Homo sapiens: one gene and its partner. The protein of the gene in region 1 purifies or fractionates together with the protein of each later gene. This does not show direct contact. Each region holds a gene or a part of one and is shown on either strand. Other genes may lie near its edges.

Region 1 (9,609 bases):
GCAGCCACGAGCAGAAATCCCAGGAACAGGCACCTGCACTCTGCCCCTGGCTGCTGCCCTGACTTCTCGCCTGGGTGGTGTGGCCGTGCTGAGAGGGCCCACAGCCCAGTGTTCTGGAGCAGGTTGTCCCTGGTCAGGGGGTGCCATGTCTTCCTGGCCTTGCCTCACCAACCCCCCAGGCAATGGGGAATGTGGCCTTGTCCAGAAAGACCCCACATCAATCAGAGGGACACAACTGGCTTATAAAATGTGTGGGGTTTCTACTTTTTTTGTTGTTGTTTGTTTTAGAGATGGGGTCTCACTGTGTTCCCCAGGCTGGTCTCAAACTCCTGGCTTCAAGTGATCCTCCCACCTCAGCCTCCCCAAGTGCTGGGATTACAGATGTGAGCCACCACACCTGGCCAAATTCCTGGGGTTCTTTTTATTTTTATTTATTTACTTTTTTTTAGACAGGGTCTCACTCTGTCACCCAGGCTGGAGAGCAGTGGTGCGATCATGGCTCACTGCAGCTTCGACCTCCCTGAGCTTAAGCGATCCTCCCACCCCAGCTTCCTGAGTAGCTGGGACTACAGGAGCACACCACCATGTTCGGCTAATTGGTTTATGTTTTTGTAGAGATGAGGTCTTGCTCTGTTGCCCAGGCTGGTCTTGAAGCCCTGGGCTCAAGTGATCCTCCTGCCTCAGCCTCCCAATGTCTTTGGATTACAGACGTGAGCCACCATGCCTGGCCATTCCCTATTTTTAAGCTACCTCGTTTGTAGTATTTTGTTATAGAAGCCTGAATGGACTAAGACAATGCGTTTAAAAGCAGATTAAACATAGCTGAATAGAAAAGTAGTAAACTGGAAGGCAGTTGAGAAGAAAATATTCTGAAGTGTGGAGCTGCCAAGCAATGGGAACTGCAGAACACAGCATGAAAACCACGTGGGGCTGGGCGCGGTGGCTCACACCTGTAATCCCAGCACTTTGGGAGGCCGAGGCAGGCGGATCAGGAGGTCAGGAGTTCGGGACCAGCCTGGCCAACACGGTGAAACCCCATCTCTCTAGTAAAAATACAAAAATTAGCTGGGCCTGGTGGCGTGTGCCTGTAATCCCAGCTACTCGGGAGGCTGAGGCAGGAGAATCGCTTGAACTTGGGAGGCAGAGGTTACAGTGAGGCAAGACCGTGCCGCTATACTCCAGCCTGGCGACAGAGCAAGACTCCGTCTCAAAAAAACAAAACAAAACCACGTGGTGTACAGTAAGAAAGACTGCAATTAGATTTCCAGAAGAGAAGAGAGAGGAAACAGGGTAAAAGTAACATTTGGAAATTGTAGAAGACGTCAGGCCGCGGATGTGCAAAGTGCTATGCGTCCCAAATAGCCATACCCGAGTGGCCTCCAGGAGACAGAAGGTGGTGGAGGGGCCCCTCGTCTCTCCCTGGCAGCGTCCTGGGTCCAGCGCCCTGCACAGCAGGCATGGCTGTGGACACAGGACCAGTGCCCACCTTGGGCCGCCAGGGGCAGAGCACGTGTGGGCATTGCGTCTGCATATCTGCCCCGCAGTGCTGCCCAGAGCAGGGTCTCCCTCGTTGCGGATGAGTGAGTGGGACTCATGCACTGAGTTGGGAGGACTGGTGAGGACGCAGACAGCGTGACTCCGGGGACTCTGGTGCCCTTGGCCAGGTGCGGTGTTAGTGGGACACCTGCAGCTGTTGGAGTGAGCGTGGTGACTGGGGCAGGGTCAGAGGAGGACAGTCAGTCTTTCTGGAGCTCACAGGAGCTCCCAGTCGGAGAATGGGGCCGTGGGATTCTGGTGGTGTGCCTTCCTCCTGCTGGGCTCACCTGGACCACTGGGACGGGTCCAACGCCACTGCTCAGCAGGAACACAGGGCCCAGGAGCCTGCCCGGCGGCTCAGGCAGCTCTGGAGACACCCGCACAGCACCCACATTAAGGGCCCTGGTAACGCCGCCCCCGGTTCTAGTTACAGAAGCAGCCCTGTGCCCGGTCAGGAGCTGGGATCAGAGCAGACAGACACCTGGTCGTGGGCGGCAGCTCCAGGAGAGCCCCAGAGGGAGGGCTGGGGGTGCTGGGGCAAGGCAGGTGTGAGGGGCGCCAGGCCACAGGGCCCCAGCGAGGAAGGTGTACAACAGAGGGTTCGCGGGAGCCGCTGCCTACAGCCCCCGAGGGGGTGGGGCGTGCCCAGAAGCAGCAGGCAGGCAGTCACCTGTGCCCGTCCACCCCCCACGCAGGACCTCCTCGCTGCGGTGGAACTCGGGCGCCAAAGAGCGCATGCTCATCAAGGTCGCTGATCGGGAGCCCAGCTTCCTCGCCGCCCAGGGCAATGGCTACGCCCCAGACGGCCCACCTGGGGTCCGCTCCCGCAGACCCTCCGGCAGCCAGCACTCACCCAGCCTGCAGACCTTCGCCCCGGAGGCTGACGGCACCATCTTCTTCCCAGAGAGGAGGCCGTCACCCTTCCTGAAGAGGGCCGAGCTCCCAGGGAGCAGCTCCCCGCTGCTGGCCCAGCCCCGAAAGCCCTCCGGGGACTCGCAGCCCTCCTCCCCGCGCTATGGCTATGAACCCCCGCTCTACGAGGAGCCCCCAGTGGAGTACCAGGCCCCCATCTACGATGAGCCCCCCATGGACGTGCAATTCGAGGCTGGCGGGGGCTACCAGGCCGGCTCTCCCCAGCGGTCGCCGGGCCGTAAGCCCCGGCCGTTCCTCCAGCCCAACAAGCAGGGCCCCCCCTCGCCCTGCCAGCAGCTGGTGCTCACCAAGCAGAAGTGTCCCGAGCGCTTCCTGAGCCTGGAGTACAGTCCCGCCGGCAAGGAGTACGTGCGGCAGCTGGTCTACGTGGAGCAGGCGGGCTCCAGCCCCAAGCTGCGCGCCGGCCCGCGGCACAAGTACGCGCCCAACCCCGGCGGTGGTTCGTACTCCTTGCAGCCCAGCCCCTGCCTGCTGAGGGACCAGCGCCTGGGCGTCAAGTCCGGAGACTACAGCACCATGGAGGGACCTGAGCTGCGGCACAGCCAGCCGCCCACGCCGCTGCCACAGGCCCAGGAGGATGCCATGTCCTGGTCCAGCCAGCAGGACACCCTGTCCTCCACAGGCTACTCCCCGGGCACGCGCAAGCGGAAGAGCAGAAAGCCCTCTTTGTGCCAAGCCACCAGCGCCACCCCCACTGAGGGCCCCGGGGACCTGCTTGTGGAGCAGCCCCTGGCCGAGGAACAGCCCCCGTGCGGGACCAGCCTCGCCCCCGTGAAGCGAGCGGAAGGTGAGGCCGAAGGGGCGCGGGGCGCGGCCGAGCCCTTCCTGGCGCAGGCTCGGCTGGCCTGGGAGGCGCAGCAGGCCCACTTCCACATGAAGCAGAGGAGCAGCTGGGACTCCCAGCAGGACGGCTCTGGCTACGAGAGCGACGGCGCCCTGCCACTGCCCATGCCCGGGCCGGTGGTGCGGGCCTTCAGCGAGGACGAGGCGCTGGCCCAGCAGGAGAACAGGCACTGGAGGAGGGGCACCTTCGAGAAGCTAGGCTTCCCCCAGATCCTGCTGGAGAAGAGCGTCTCCGTGCAGACCAACCTGGCCTCACCAGAGCCCTACCTCCACCCCTCACAGGTGAGGGCCCAATGGGCGCGGCTGAGCTTGAGAGCCTGGGGCCAGCCCAGTCAGAGTGGACCCCGTGGGCCAGGCACAGGAGACCTGGCGTCCAGGGCGTGCACGCAGCACGCAGAGTTCTGAAGCCCCGTGTCTCCGGGGCCCTGGGCACTCCAGCGGGCTGTCAGGGCTCAGCTGGGAGTCCACGAGGAGGCCCCGTGGGGTGTGGGCTGCTGGGCGTTCCCTGGCAGTGCCTTCCTCATCCTGGGGGCACCTGGGAGCTGGAGGCCACACCCTGACTCCAGACACAGAACAGAGAAGGCCTCAGCAGCCTGGGAGGGTGGTGGCCACCGGAGCCGTGGCCTGGGCCCCTGAGGAGCAGGCAGCCAAGGTGTCGGGGGTTCCCTGGTGGTTCTCAAAGCCAGTCCCCGAGGCTCCCTCGGGTAGGAAGAACTGCCGGGAGGACAGAGGCCGCAGGAATTCCGGGATGTTGCGCCCAGCCTGGGGCCTCTGGCACGTTCCCCATCTGGCTCCTGGAGCTGATGGAGGCTAGATCCCGTGGAGGCCACGTGCACCTCTGTCCAGCATCTCCATCCTTGTTCTCACCTCCTTGTTCTCACAGGGTGAGGCAGAGGGCAGGCCTAGCGTCTGAGGACCCGGGAGGGTGGAGGAGGAACACAGGGAGCTTCCTTGGGTGGGGAGACCTCGAGGGCCTGGGTGGCCTTCGTGGTCTCCAGGGTGGAGAACTCAGAGCAGCTTCCGGTCCGTGATTCTGTCCACTTCTCAAGATGCAGGACAAGAGGGCAGAGAGGCCCAGGGTGCATGGACCAGGTTCTCTCAGAGCAGCAGGCAGGGAGGGGCCTCCTGGAGGTCGGCCTGGGGTGAAGGCTGGAGGGAAGGGCCTGGGGTCCCAGCAGTGAAGGGATTGGGAACCAGACAGCACTTTTACCTGGTGTGAACTGCAGCCTTCCGTGCCTGAACAAGGGCACTGACACTTCCTCAGGGGGCGGCAGAATGAGGTCAGCCCCCTGGGGGTGCCAGCGGATGCTCCCCTTCCTCCCGCCTCACCCTCAGCCAGGTCACCTGGGTCACCCATCAGCAGGCTGCCCTGCCACACCCTGGGAGTACAGGGCTCCGGCGTCCCAGCTGCATCTGTGGACGGGCTGGGCTCCCCTGGGCCTCCCACCTCAGACAGCTTTGTGGTGAGCAGGGCAGGGCTCTCACCTGGCTGGCTCTGGTGGGGCCCCAGCTCACACTTCTGGGGACTGTGGCCCAGTGGGCCCACCTGCCTGGCCCTCCCCCACCCCCAACAGCCCAGCCGCATTTGTCCTTCTCAGTCTGAGGACCTCGCTGCCTGTGCCCAGTTCGAGAGCAGCCGGCAGAGCCGCAGCGGCGTTCCCAGCTCCAGCTGCGTCTTCCCCACTTTCACGCTGCGCAAGCCCTCCTCGGAGACGGACATCGAGAACTGGGCCTCCAAGCACTTCAACAAGCACACGCAGGGCCTCTTCCGGCGGAAGGTGTCCATCGCCAACATGCTGGCCTGGAGCAGCGAGTCCATCAAGAAGCCCATGATCGTGACAAGCGACCGGCACGTGAAGAAGGAGGCCTGCGAGCTCTTCAAGCTGATCCAGATGTACATGGGTGACCGGCGGGCCAAGGCCGACCCACTGCACGTGGCCCTGGAGGTGGCCACCAAGGGCTGGAGCGTGCAGGGCCTGCGGGACGAGCTCTACATCCAGCTGTGCCGGCAGACCACCGAGAACTTCCGCCTGGAGAGCCTGGCCCGCGGCTGGGAGCTCATGGCCATCTGCCTGGCCTTTTTCCCGCCCACCCCCAAGTTCCACTCCTACCTGGAAGGCTACATCTACCGGCACATGGACCCCGTCAATGACACTAAAGGTAAGGCCATGCACGGGCTTTGCCACCAGCTCAGGTAAGGGCAGTGGAGAGGGCTCCTGCTGTGCTGGGCGGCAGCTGGTGAAGTCCCTGGCGGCCCTCCACACAGGGCCATGGTTCGACACACACCTCCCAAAACGCCCCACACTCTGGGCCTCTGCTGGATGTGGCCTCTTCCTGGAGCCCCACCTGGGCACTGAGGTGAAGAGCCCCGGAGCCCTGGCAGACACGAGGGCTTGGGGCCTCAATGGCCGCATCCACTCTGCTCCAAGCCCACCATGGCCAGTCCCGCTCCCTGACAAGGGCAGGCACGAAGACGCCGAGGGCGGAGCAGCCGTAGTCAGGCACCTGTGTGCCTGCCGCACTTGCCTTCTGCCATCCGTGACCTAGAGGGCTACCACCCTGGCAAGATCCGGGTTGTCTCTTCTGGGCATGGTCCTGGCAGAAGGCTCCTGTGAGCAGGCAGGAGCTTGATGACTGGCTCACATGCAGGTCACGCAGCACCTGAGCTGCCCCAAAGCTGCCCCATGGGGTCGCACGTCGGAGCCATCATCACATCCTGATGGCTGCCTGGGGCAGCGTGGGAGGCCAGAGTCTGCCCAGGGCTCTCCAAGACGATGCTTCAGGTGTGCTGGGCCCAGGCCATGGTGCCATCCGCCAGACAGCCCCGTGTCTGCAGCAAGCAGCTCTCCACCTCACATCATGGGTATCTACAGGGCACAGCCACAGAACTGATATCCAGAAATGCACGCGCACACACACACACATGCACGCACGCACACACACCCTCCAGGTCAGACATGCCATAGACTGTTCTGTGGCAGTGAGAGCCCACCCTGGTCTGGCCTTTGCCTCTGCAGAGATTGAGCCCCTGGTCAGGGCCTTGCTGGGCCTTACCCCTATTACCCCCAGCCCAGGTGTGGAGGAGGTGGCTCCCAAGCTGCTGTGGGCACACAGAGGCAGGGTGGAGGCCACAGGGCAGTGGGAGGTTCCTGGGGACAGTGTTGGGTATAGGCACCACCCAGCCCATCAGCTGTTTGTGGGGAGATTTTGGAAGCCATGCAGTTTCACCCGACTTTTCAACACAAGATCACAGCAGAGGCAGAGTTTGGCAGGTGGCCGGGGCTCCAGGTGTGCAGAGGAGGACCAGAGCAGGGTGCCAGGCAGACTGGGCTGGCCTGTGAAGCCCAGTCCCTGGTCTTGGGCCCTTCAAGAAGCAGGTGGAATTCTAGGGGCTGTGTTCCTCTTGGCATCATAGTTCACCTCCTCTTCCTCTTCCAGAGGGGCCTGGGAATGTCGTGCCTGAGCTGGAGGCTATGGAGCTGAGCCCCCACTGCTCAGCACAGCATGCAGCCCACAGTGGGTACCCCCGAGAGTAGGCAAGTGAGGGCCAGAAGACAGCCAGACAAAGGCCTGAGGTTTCTTGGGCCCATCTTGGGCCAGCTGCCTAGCCAATGTGTGGCTGGGCTGTTTCTGCTGTATGTAAGTAGAGGCTGTGGCTTCCTAGGGGAGTGTGTGCTCCAGGCTGCTGCCCTTCACACTTAGGCTCGTGTGCCTTTGTCCTTGTGCCTTACACCTGTGGGGTCCTGGCCTGCATGGAAAAAGGAATCAGGCTTCAGCCTGGGCGGCCGTGGCTTCAGAGCTCTGCCAAAGAAGGCCCATGAAGGCCAACAGCACCGTCTGGGTTGGAGTGACAGCGGGGCTGGGGCTCTGTGCAGTCCCACTGGCAGGTAGCCTGCATCTTGGCTGTGGTACTGTGGCCACCCTCACAGCCAGAACCTCATCTCCAGCCCCAGGATCCACTCCTAGGTTCGTCTGTCAGGGTCCCTGATTGGCCCTGAGCCCAGAAGAGAGGCCTCTACATACACAGTGGCCATTCCTTCCCAAATGAGCCTCACACCCCCTCCAGCCAGCCTCCTGTGCCTAGGAGGTGTCCCTTTCACATGCAGGTGCTGGCTGCTGCTCAGAAAGACAGGCCCAGCCAGGCACAGTGGCTCACACCTGGAATCCCAGCACTCTGGGCCAAGGCAAGAGGATCCCTTGAGCCTGGGAGTTTGAGACCAGCCTGGGCAACAAAGTGAGACCCTGTCTTTATGAAAAATTTTAAAAAGGAAATTAGCCAAGCATGGTGGTGTATGCTTGTGGTCCCAACTACTTGGGAGGCTGAGGCAGGAGGATTGCTTGAGCCCAGGAGGTTAAGTCTGCAGTGAGTCATGATCGTACCACTGCACTCCTGCACTCCAGCCTGGGCAACAGAGCAAGACCCCCAGCCTGGGCAACAGAGCAAGACCCCCCTTTTTTTTTGGAGTTAGAGTCTCGCTCTGTTGCCCAGGCTGGAGTTCAGGAGTGCAGTGGTGCAATCATGACTCACTGCAACCTCTGCCTCCTGGGTTCAAGCGATTGTCCTGCCTCAGCCTCCCGTGTAGCAGGGACCACAGGTGCGCGCCACCATACCCAGCTAGTTTTTGTATTTTTAGTAGAGACGGGGTTTCACCACGTTGGCCAGGATGGTCTCAAACTGCTGACCTGAGTTGATCCACCCACCTGAGTTTCCCAAAGTGCTGGGATTAGAGGCGTGAGCCATTGTGCCCGGCCAAGACTCCGTCGAAGTGGGGGTGGGGGGGCGGGTAGGAAAAAGAAAGAAAGAAAAGCAGGAAGGAAGAGAAGAGAAAGGAAAGAAAGACAGGCCCTATCAGCCGAGGAGGATGTCGGATATAGCCTGTACTGTGGAGGGCCAGCTAGGCTGCAGCACAGTTCTTAGAAAAAGGAAACTGTAGCCTAGGGACCCTCGGTGAGGAGCAGAGCTGAGCCTGGTGCGTCGCCCTGAGCACCCTGCCTGCCTCAGCCTCAGGAGCCTTTGACTCATCGGCCAGCACCTGCGTGACCTGCACTGTGTGGTCACCACCCTCGGGGACTGAGGCCCCACGAGGTGATGCCCCCAGCTTAGCCTTGTCTCATGGGTGCTCACACCTTTCACACCAGCAGGGGGTCTCCTGGCTGGTCCCCAGGACCTCCCTCAACAGGTTCTCGACACAGACATCGAGGAGCACCTGGCAGTGGGTATGGTAGCCTCCAGCTCTCCCACCTGCTCCACTTCTGTGTATTTTGGAAGGCTGGAGACTCCTAAAGGTTTCATTCACTGCTCGCTTCTTCATGCATCCAACAAGGTCTCCCGGCTTCCAGCTCAAGATGGCGGATTGAACATGGGCATTTGCTTCACCTTTGCCTTGAACTCACTAAAACAGCAGTGAAGCCATTTTTTAAAGGCAAAAAAAAAAAACCCAGAAAGGAATGTAAAATGGTACAGCCACTGTGGAAACTGGTAGGCAGTTCCTCAAATAATTAAAAATATAATTCCCATATCATCTAGCATTTCCACTTCCAGAATGACCCAGAAGAGCTGGGAGCCAGGACTGTAATGGTGATTTGTACACCTCGTTCACAGCAGCTCTTATAACTAAAAGGTGGGAACATGACAAGGATCCATCAGCAGCTGAATGGAGAAACAGAACGTGTCCAGCCACAAAATGGAAAATTATTTCCAGCCTTAAAAAGGAAGGAAATGTTGATAGACGCGCATGGATGAACCTTGAGGGCATCATGCTAAAGGCAAGAAGCCAGTCAGGATAGAGATTGTAGGATTCTCCCTCCGTGAGGCCCTAGAGCAGTCAGATTCCCAGAGACAGAAACTAGAATGGTGGGTGCCACGGCTGAGGGAGGGAGAAGCGGGGAGTGAGGTCTGCTTTGGAAAGATGAAAAAGTTCTGGAGATGGCCAGTGGTGATAGTTGTACAACAATGTAAATGTACTTAATGTCACAGAACTGTCTGTTTTTAAATGGTTAAAGTGGTAAATTTTATGTGTATTTTACCAAACTTTTAAAAACACAAAGAAAAAGAAAATGGAAAAGGAAGAACAGCTGTTTTAGAAGGTGGAGCATGTGGACCACAAACGGTAAATCCTGGGCCGATGGTGGGAAACGGAAAAGCTGAAGCAGGCAGCAAACCCTTAGAAGCTCACAAATGCTTCTAGCAAAGGGGGAAGAGGGTGACCCTGAAGCTGGAAACAAAGGATTGGTTAAAACTGCTTAAGAAGCAAAGGAGTCCAGGCGCGGTGGCTCACGCCTGTCATCCCAGCACTT
Region 2 (10,096 bases), on another chromosome or scaffold:
GTGAACTACAAATAGACACATTTCACGTTTAAAGAACAGATCGTTGAGCAACAAGTGTGGCTGAATAGGAGAGCATTTATTAACAAGGAGAAAAGACATCAGTTGGTAAAAGGTTAAAAAGATGGGCCTGGACCAGACTGCACAGGGTGTTTCTTACTGCCCAGGAAAGGAAACATCGTGGAGTCTTTCAGCAGGAGAATGACAGAAAGGCAGAGTTTAAAACACTCATCTAATAAGGTGGATTTGAGCAGGGAGGGACAACTGGTAAGAATCTGGTTAAGAAGATGTTACTATTTAGTGAGCTAAAGAAGATGACAGCTGATAGTCAAGGATTGTGCCTGTGGAAACAGAAAAGAATAGTTCTAAAACCACTGCATGGGAAAAATTAACATAATCTACTGAATAACTAAATGCAGGGAGCAAAGAACAGAGAAGTATCAAAACACAACAAGGTAACAAGTCTAGCAGTCTAGAAGACTGGAGTATCAGTGACAGAGCAGGGGAGTCAGAAGGGCTGCTTTGGGAGAGAAGAATGAGAGATGGTTTTGGCATATTTTGTATTTGTAGTAGCTCTTTGCTACTTTTGAGTTACAAATCCCTTCCTTTGAGAATCTAATGGAACCAATGGATTCCCTCTTCAGAAAAAATAAATGCATTCATACTTAAACACATGTTGCACAATTTATAATGTACACCCCTGGAATTGGCTGCAAGAGAGCTCTTGATCCAAGCTGGGCCAATCAGAGCCCTTCCTGGAATTTTTGTACTCTATATCCAGAGAATCAAGTCAGTCTCTCCTTACTAGCTAAATCTGTGAATGCTGTTAGCTGATGTATTTTACAACACATGAGCCTGAGAAACAGAGAAAATGCTCAAATGTAGAATGAGAAGAGAGAGAGAGCCTAATACAAAAGGTCAGAAATGAGAGAGAGAACGTGTCCTAATGGCAGCTGAGTTCATGTCTTTATTAAGAAAGCAACTCATCTTTAAAAGAGATCCATTCTTTGACTTAAGAGGTTGTCGTATTCATTCCCTCCTCTGGACTTTCGTTGAGCTCTCAGGGCCCTTCCTTCCTTCTTTCCAACCATTTCTTTTTTCTATTCTGCTTTTCTCAAGAAGCAGTTCTATACCATCCCAGTCAAACTTGTATCCCTCCTTCTTGTAATTAATTACAGAACTTGCTGTTTTATTCATGTTCAGACTTAATTCTATAATATGCTATATTATATATTTAAATGTTTTAAGCATTCTGTTTCTCAAATAGATTATGACAGTTAAGTAGGCAAGACTTTCCTCAAATCAATTCTATATGCCCTATGGCACTTATCACAGCTATATACGAACAGTAGGTGCAAATACTTGTCAAACATTTATAAATGTCAATGTAAAAATATATGAGCATTTGTTTATTCACATTTTACATGCATTTTTCATTTTACAAAAAAGGGATTTACTAGAAACTTCTTTTAAGTAGTAGCTCCTCTATGTGGAAATGTTTTTAAGTGTTCATCTAGAAATATTAAATATTCATCAAAAGGCTGAGGTAGAGTTGGTGGGGAAAATGTTGAAGCTATTGGGTAAGTCATTAATTACAGATCAACAAGAAATGAGATTATGAAAAACAATCAATGACAAAAATCTCATTTACATCAACCTTTCAGAAATGCTTCCATTGTGTGACATGGCTCACTTTTTTTTTTTTTAGTGGGGGGTCTTACTCTGTTGCCCCAGCTGGAGTGCAGTGGTGCAATTATAGCTCACTGTGGCCTCGAACTCCTGGCCTCAAGTGATCCTCCTGTCTCAGTCTTCTGAGACTCTGGGATTACAGGCATGAGCAACTGGCAACCCACATTTAAAAAATATGTAATCTTTGTTCTCCTTTACACTTTATATGGCAATCTCCTCAGGGTAACTGATAGAGAATAAAGTTTATGTCTAGGTTCAGTTTTTGGCTCTACGCATCATTCAGTGTAAAATTGGGCTGGTTATTTAACCTCTCAGAACCCCCCTCATCCAAAAAATTAAGATAATACTTATCTGATAGGATGTTGTGGGAATTAAATGAGGTTGTGCATATAAAGTAGCTGGTGAAATATTTGCTGCCAGTAGGTGATCACTCAGTGGTGGGTGGTATGACTTTTTATTTAGGGAGAGAGAGTTGAGGGAAAAGGGTAGAAAAAGGTGAACCTGATGGTTTACTTAAGAGACATAGAGGGCTGGGCACAGTGGCTCATGCCTGTAATCCCAGCACTTTGGGAGGCTGAGGCAGGCGGATTGCTTGAGCCCAGGAGTTCGAGACCAGCCTGGGCAACATAGCGAGACTCCATCTCTATAACAATATAAAAAATTAGCTGGGCATGGTGACATGCACCTTTGGTCTCAGCTACTCAGGGGGCTGATGTGGAAAGGTCACCTGAGTCTGAGAAATAGAGGCTGCAGTGAGCCATGATGGTGCCACTGCACTCCAGCCTGAGTGATGAGGGTGAGACCCTGTGTCAAAAAAGAAGGAAAGAAAGAAAGGAAGGAAGAGAAGGAAAGAAAGAAAGAAAGAAAGAAAGAAAGAAAGAAAGAAAGAAAGAAAGAAAGAAAGAGAGACTTAGAGGTAGCCAGGGAAGACACCATATGCAGAGGTGGGTGATAGTGCAGAGTTGAAAGGGCAAGAAAGGGCATTTTGAATGATACAGATGATGCTAAAATGTTGGGAGGTATAGGGCAAGGATGGGCTACATTATGAACAATTATTTGCAGGTTCTTATTACACGGCATACGTTACATTTCCAAATTTAAGTTATAGACTAACATCTTTACTAGAATGGATTTTTAGTAGGTAATAAAATTAGTATTCTCAGGATTTCAGGTAATAGTGACAGAAAAGGGAATCAGGGAGAGGAGTTGAGAACAGAGGTGGCTTCTTGCTGCAATGTTGCTCTCTGTCCCTACTATACCCCACTCACAACTCTGTCAGGGACATATTGTTTCCTCCTCAAAGTTAGAGTGTGGCAACAAATTATAAGACTGGACAGTAGAACGACCTGGAAGAGAATTGGCAGAATAGAAGGATGGTGGATGATCAAAAGAGCGAAGCAGTGAGTTCATTCCTGGACACTGCCCACATGAAAATGGGATTTGGGAAAGGTTGGCTAAAAGAAGTGGTGACTGATCTTTGGAAGTATGGTGAGGACAGTGAGTCAGAGTTACTCACTTTATCAGCGCAGGGGACCATGTGGGTTACAGCTATCAGATCTTACTGTGGGTAAATCCAATAAAGAGCTCTGTTGCTAAAATTGAACAATTACAGTGTTTTTCTAATTTCCAGGAAAAATGGGTTTAAAGGTTTTCATTTTGTGAATTATTATTAATTTTTTGGTACTTCCTACCTTGTAAAAAAGTTGCAAATAAATTTAAAGAGAAAAACACAGACATATTATTTCTTAAAAACACATTATTTTTTGGCTGGACACAGTGGTTCACGCCTGTAATCCTGGCACTTTTGGAGGCCAAGTTGGGTGGATCACATGAGGTCAAGAGTTCGAGACCAGCCTGGTCAACATGGCAAAACCCCATCTGTACCTAAAATACAAAAATTAGCCAGGGGTGGTGGTGTGTGCTTGTAATCCCAGCTACTTGGGAAGGAGGCTGAGGCACAAAAATCGCTTGAACTCGGGAGGCGGAGGTTGCAGTGAGCCGAGATGGCACCACTGCACTCCAGCCTGGGTGACAGGTCGAGACTCTATCTCAAAAAAAAAGAACAACAACAACAACAAAAAGCCCCCATTTTTTTATTATGTGATTATGTGGAGATTTGCATAACCATAAAATTGCCAGATTTAGTGCTTGTAAAATTGTGTCAATTCCATATGGCAGAGTTAAATCTATCTGTATTTCATGATGCTCCACGTTGAGCACCATAATTTCTAGAGACTGCCACCTGAACTAGTTTGAAAACCAACATTACACCCCTGACTGCCTTTTGTTATTTCTCAGAGAAGGAATGTTATTAGCCTCAGTGGAACTCGCAGGGAAAGGCTTAGATAGAAAGTAATCTTAAAAAAAAAAAAAAAAAAGACCGAAGGAGAATTAAATAGGGTAAATTCAAGTGTAAGAAGGATAACATAATAGCTCCTGTTTCCTGAGTCCTTATTGTGTAACAGGATTTGTGCTAAGTATTTTCCAAAATTTTGTTTCATCTTTACATCCATCTGTGAGGTAAGTATTAATATCACCCACGTTAGACAGATGAAGAAAGGAAGGTCCGGAGACCTGTTCAAGGTCACACAGCAGGTAAGTGTTGGGTGACACTGAGATTCAAACTGAGGTTTTCCGACTGCAGTGATGATGACATTGTAATGCTTCTTTGTGTGTATGTGATTTTAAAAAACTGACATGAAGTGCACAGATCTTTTTGCATATGTATACACCCGGGTAACCATTAAGATATTGAATATTTCCAGCAAACCAGAAGGCTCTCTCCTGTCCCCTCTCAATCAATTCCCCTGTAAGTAATCACTACCTTGCCTCTAATACCATAGGTAGATGGGTTTTCATTAGATTAATCTAACTTTCTGGAGTTAACACCAAAAGATTCCATATGTCAGCCCTTCACCTTGCCATGTTAGCTGTATTATTCAAAGCTGCTCTAGCTCTGACTTTGCAAGCATTCACTGTAAAGAAGAGCTGTTGGATGGACATGTTCATATCCAGTTTCTTGTATTGTTCTGAAATTAATACTAATTTTTGAAAATCGAAGAAACTCCTGGATGAAGTGCTACAGGATGGGGCAGATTAAAGTGCTGTTATCAAACAAACCTCTCTACCTTGGAAGCGCCACAGACAGAGCTTCCTTGATTGATGTAATTTGGCGCATCTATTTCCAATCATGTCATCTGATTAAGAAGTTGGATGACCACGAAAGGTCATCTCAGTTTATGGAAGGGAAGGCGAGCCGGGCAGAGTTGGTAACGGTGATTGCTTCGCATCATCTTGCAGCACGCGATGATGTTTATGTCCCAAATACCTCCCACAGCCGACTTGCTGTTTTATGATAGGAGGGAAACAGTAGAGGGGAAGAAGATCTAGGTGGAGGGTGAAATATGACCTAACATCGTTCGACGAGGTATTAATGTGGTGGCTTTCCCGCCCTTGTCGACCAGCTCTTAAAACCACGCTACTTCTTAGTCAACCTGGCAGTGACAGAAGCAGCGCCACGACTTTACCTCAGGTTTGCAAGCTGTGGTTGGTGAATTTTCAGCCATTATTCTAAATAACAGTCTCGGTCTCCCCACAAACCCCACTGTTGTTTTGTTTTTCTTTCTCATTCTGATTCTCCCCACAGCCAACCGTGGCCTTTTGAAGTCGTCTACAAACTACCACTGAGAATCCGGGAAAGAATAACTGACACTTGTAGGCTTCGAGGACTCTCAGAGTGATATGTGCCTGAGGTGACCGAAGTGGGGGAGATCTAGGAGAGCATTCCGGTCATCAAAGCAGGAGGACAGGCCCTGAAATGGGCGCACGTGACAGCAGCAGCCACCTCGAGAGTGACATCACCCCTGAGGGCGGAGCCCAACTATGTAGGGCCTTGTCAGTTACCGAGCGTCCTCCCTGCTGCCCCTCCAAATGCCACCCACAAGTCCGAGCCCCCCGGGGATACGAGAAATGCCAGGACATCCCAGAGCGCCAGAGCCAGGGCCCCGTCTCTCCGCGCGGAGGAGGGCTGCGTCCCCACTCCCTCTTCCAGCCGTTCCCCACCCCCAAACTGTGGAAGGGGCGGGGGCGCGCGCGCTCCACCACGCACGCGCCCCCACGCACGCGCGCTCCCTCCGCGCTCGCGCCCCTCCCCACCCCAGCCCGGAGGGGGCGGGGCTGCGGGCGGCCTCAGAGGGTGCGACGCCCCCAGCGCGGCGGCGGCGCTAGCGAGCGGCCGGCGGGGCGCGGGTTGCTGGGCGCGCTGCTCCGGCGGGGCCCGCTGGCACAGCCGCCTCGCGCGAGCCGCCCGCCCGGCGGGGGAAGCTGCGAGCGCTCCGAGCGCCCGGCCTAGGGCCGCTGGCGCTGCCCTCCCGCCGCCACCGCCCTCCGCGCCTCCTTCGGGCGGCCCCGCCCCCATTCCCATCCCCCTCGCGCTCACCTCCCGGCTGTGCCGCGCGCTAGGCGGAGCGAGGCGCCCGCCGCCGCCGAGCCGAGCCGAGGGGCGAGAGCTGGCCCCCGAGCCGCCGCTGACAGGAGCACCGCCGCGGGCTGCGCTCGCCGGCTGCGAGGCCCCGCCGCGCCGTTCCGGGGTGCAGACTCGCCGCGGGGCGTTGGAGGACTGCGAGGTGCTCCGGGAATCGCGGGCGGCGCCGGCGGGCGGCGCGGTCCTCACAGGAGACCCCGGGGACTGGGGCTTGACCCGGAGGTGCAGAGAGCCCCTCAGAGCGGCAGGTAAGGGGCCCGGGGAGCAGGGCGAGGAAAGGTCGCTTCAGTGACAGGGTCGTTCGCCTCCACAGCCTCGGCTCCGGGGAGAGGGGCGGGGGCGAGCGGGGAGACGGCGAAATGGGCAGCGAAGTGCCTCGGTGTCCAAGGCGTGGGGAAGGCTGGCTCCGAATATGACACCAAGGCGGGCTTCAGAGGCGTGTGGGGTCGCCACTTGGCTGTCACCGAAGATGTCATGGAATTTGGTACCTAGAGCGTCTCTGGATGACGGGGACCAAGGATAAGATGCGAGGCGGATTGCTAAACGTGGCAGGGAATGTGGTGCAGAACGAGTTGCAAAATGTGCCCCCAGAATGCAGCATAAAAGTAGTTGCGAAATGTGCCAGGTAAGGCACAGGATGGGCTGGCCTCTGTGGCGTTGAAATTCATGGTCGAAGTGTTATTAGCGATATTAATAATTCCTCTGGGAAAGGAGGTGTAGCATAATAAAAGATTAATAAGGCTCATTGCTAGATATTTTGCCATAGGAAATCGGGAGGAGCTATGATAAGCTATTTTTTTTGAGGTAGAGAAAGTAACCACGTGAAAGAAAAAAAGCAAATTGTGTCTGGCTGTGAGATTGGAAAGAAAAAATAGGGCTAAAATAATTCCAGGTTTTGCCATCAGCGTGTAGAGCATTGGTACAATTGTATCCAGTCTTCATTTCCAGGTGTGGAATGTTTAGAATGGTCTTCACAAAACATAAACAATGATAATTAACATTAGGAAGAAGATTTGGTGTTTCGGGTGTCTTTCACTCTCTTCTCTGCTCCTCTCCAGGAAAAGAAACAAACAAAACCCCAAACGTCTTGACCATAATTATGAGTTAAAGATCATTAGGCAAAGGGAAGTATTTTTCGTATGTGCCCTTTTCCTGATTTTTACACAGGTGAAAATATCTGTAATGAGGAAAACAAAGCAGTGTGGTGAACAAAAGGGATAGATTTTCAGGCATTTTGAGGGGTTGGAGCCAGTATCTATCACAATGGTTAATTATAGAGAACGGCAGTACTAAAATATTCTTGTATGTTCTTGGTGTTGGGATGGTGAAATAAAAAAAAAAAAGAATACAGTAAATTGGCATAAAAAGCAACAACATGGATACTGTCAGTGGAGTGCTTCTTGCAGCATTTCCCAGGTAGATCCTCTTAGGGATGTGAGCACGAAATAAAACGTTAAACATTCTCTTTCTCCCTCTCTCTTGCTCCCCTCTGTATCTAGATATTTATTTATGTCTCTATATAGATATATGTGCATGTATATTATACATACATAAGAAATTACCAACATGCTGCAAAACATTGTGACTTCCATTTAAGAACATCTGTTTCGAGAGGATTGTCAGAACATAGCTGGAATTTCAGAAGTAACAAAAGACAACTCCATGATCTATTTAATGTAACTTATATGTATACATACAATGAGTGTGAATATACTATATAACAAAAGCAGAAATATGGAAATGTGTTCGTTAGAATGTACTTAATTATTGATGAGATTTTAATGTTTTATGTTATAATTCTTGTAAAGAAATTAAATTACATGTGTGAATGCTGTTCTCATTATAGTAATTTGCCAGATAATCTGAAAATTCATACTGATTGGCTTTCCCTTAGATCCAAATTCAGCCATTGAGGGATCATTTGCTTCAAAGACAAAAATAGATTTTCCTTGGTGATTGATTTTGGGTTTTAGTCTTTTCTGTAGATATGTCCCTTACCTTGAGAAGCTGTTGGGGCTGAAGAACAGAGGAAAGGGCCAGAGGAGAATAAAGAGAATTCTGTTGGGTCTTCCTGTTTTGTTCTGACTGTAAGCCATATGTACTGCCACCCCCTACTGTCTGTAGGAAGAGGTGTTACAGAGCCCGATTCTTTTCTTGTTATCACTGCCCCCTTGTGTAAGGGAAGAAATTGATAGTTGCGCTCGGGGAACCAGTCCTCTCAGATTGTTCTTGATAGAGTATTATGTAGATCTGTGAATCACCTATTTTCTTCAGAGTTGAAGGGCTTTAAACTTACTGTTAATCAGGCCTCAGATTTGGTGTCTATTTTAAATATAGGTAGCATTTGATGTTAGGAATTCAGATTGCTTAAGAATGTTTTTGGTACTTTCAGGAAGAGGGTGCAATACAATTACTACTACATTCTTCCCTTATTGTATGCAGGGGATTGGTTCCAGGACCCCCACATATGCCAAAATCCTTGCATGCTCAAATCCCGCAGTTGGTGTATGGAACCATGTATAGGGAAAAGTCGGCCCTCAATATACTCGGTTTTTGCATCCCATGAATACTGTATTGCTTGAAAAAAATCTGCATAGGAGTAGACCAGCACAGTTTAAGCCCATGTTGTTCAAGGGCCAGCTGTACTAGTAGTAACAGCTCACATTTATGTAGCACCTATTCTTTGCCAGTCCCGTTGTACGTTGTTTTAATCAGTTCCAACACCCTATGAGGTATGTGTTGTTATTTCTGTTTTACAGATGAGAATCTGAAACACAGAGAGGTTAAATAACTTGCCCAATACTATATAGCTGAGAAGTAGAAGAGCTAAGTTTCCATTTAGGAATGCTAGCTCCAGAACCTGTGCTCCTCATCAATATGCTATATTGCCCTCTCACTCAAGGTAGTATTGGCAAGGCATAATTAAAATGCATGTGCCCATCATAAAGCAAGTACAATAGATGTGGATAAACCTGGACAACTCACATAGATGTTAAGTCTGCATATATACAAAAGATACAGTTATTTGCAGTGTGAACATTTCTCTTTAGGAATTTGTTTTTTAACTTATTTCTGGGATTATGCGTAGAGGAGTATTAGTACTTTTTATGTGGTTAAGGAAATATTTGTGATGGTGGTTGGTTTGAAGGGAACTTCAGAGGTAAAAAGTTAATTTCAAGTAGTTTAATATAGTGTGTGTGTGTGTGTGTGTATATAAATACACATTCATACACACACACACAGCCTTTTTAAGAGCACCAGTAAACCTTTACTGCTTATTTTCTGTAGGGAAATTAAGGATAAATTACAATATTTTTCTTCCTACTCATATTTTTATGACCTCTTTTTCATTTATATTAAAAACTACCATAATTAGCACAAATGGATTAGATGCCTATGTACATTTTACCTCTAATGTCAACAAATGTTTGTTCAGATTTTTCTCACACTTAAACATTGTTTTATAAGATATTGACCACATATGACAAAGTATTTATAAAAATGTGTAAAATATAAAGACTTCACAATGCAGCCAACACTTACATGCCTTTTACCCAGTTTAAGAAATGGAACATCATCTTTCACAATTATAATAGTTATTTTCTTCTCTTAGCCAAATTGCTTCTGCCATTCTTTTTCAACAGAAACCTTTCCTTATTGTGCTGCGAATTGCATATCTCATGTAACCAAACACTTCCCTTTTTATATACATTTGTTGATATGGGAATTCAATATAATCTACTGCTTATGGCTAAAACTTATTCAGCATATATGCTTACGTAATTTAATATATTTAATAAATTGTCATACACTCAGACTATGCTTTGTATTTGTATTGGTTACTGGTTGGTAGTTCATTTTAGCATACTTCACTTGTAAAACTTAATTTGGTTTGCAAATTAGGATTTTACTAACATTGTTAAACAT

What was found.
Region 2: the proteins of ARHGAP39 (region 1) and TANC2 purify together in Homo sapiens (affinity purification with mass spectrometry; 2 studies listed by BioGRID and IntAct, with this or other methods). This does not show direct contact.

Annotation. Positions count from the first base shown.
Region 1 is NC_000008.11:144,541,112-144,550,720, reverse strand, and holds part of ARHGAP39 (rho GTPase-activating protein 39), read left to right. Parts: intron 1-2,231; coding exon 2,232-3,594; intron 3,595-4,910; coding exon 4,911-5,472; intron 5,473-9,609.
Region 2 is NC_000017.11:62,960,333-62,970,428, forward strand, and holds the start of TANC2 (protein TANC2), read left to right. Parts: upstream 1-5,902; 5' UTR 5,903-6,417; intron 6,418-10,096. UniProt on the Homo sapiens protein: Scaffolding protein in the dendritic spines which acts as immobile postsynaptic posts able to recruit KIF1A-driven dense core vesicles to dendritic spines.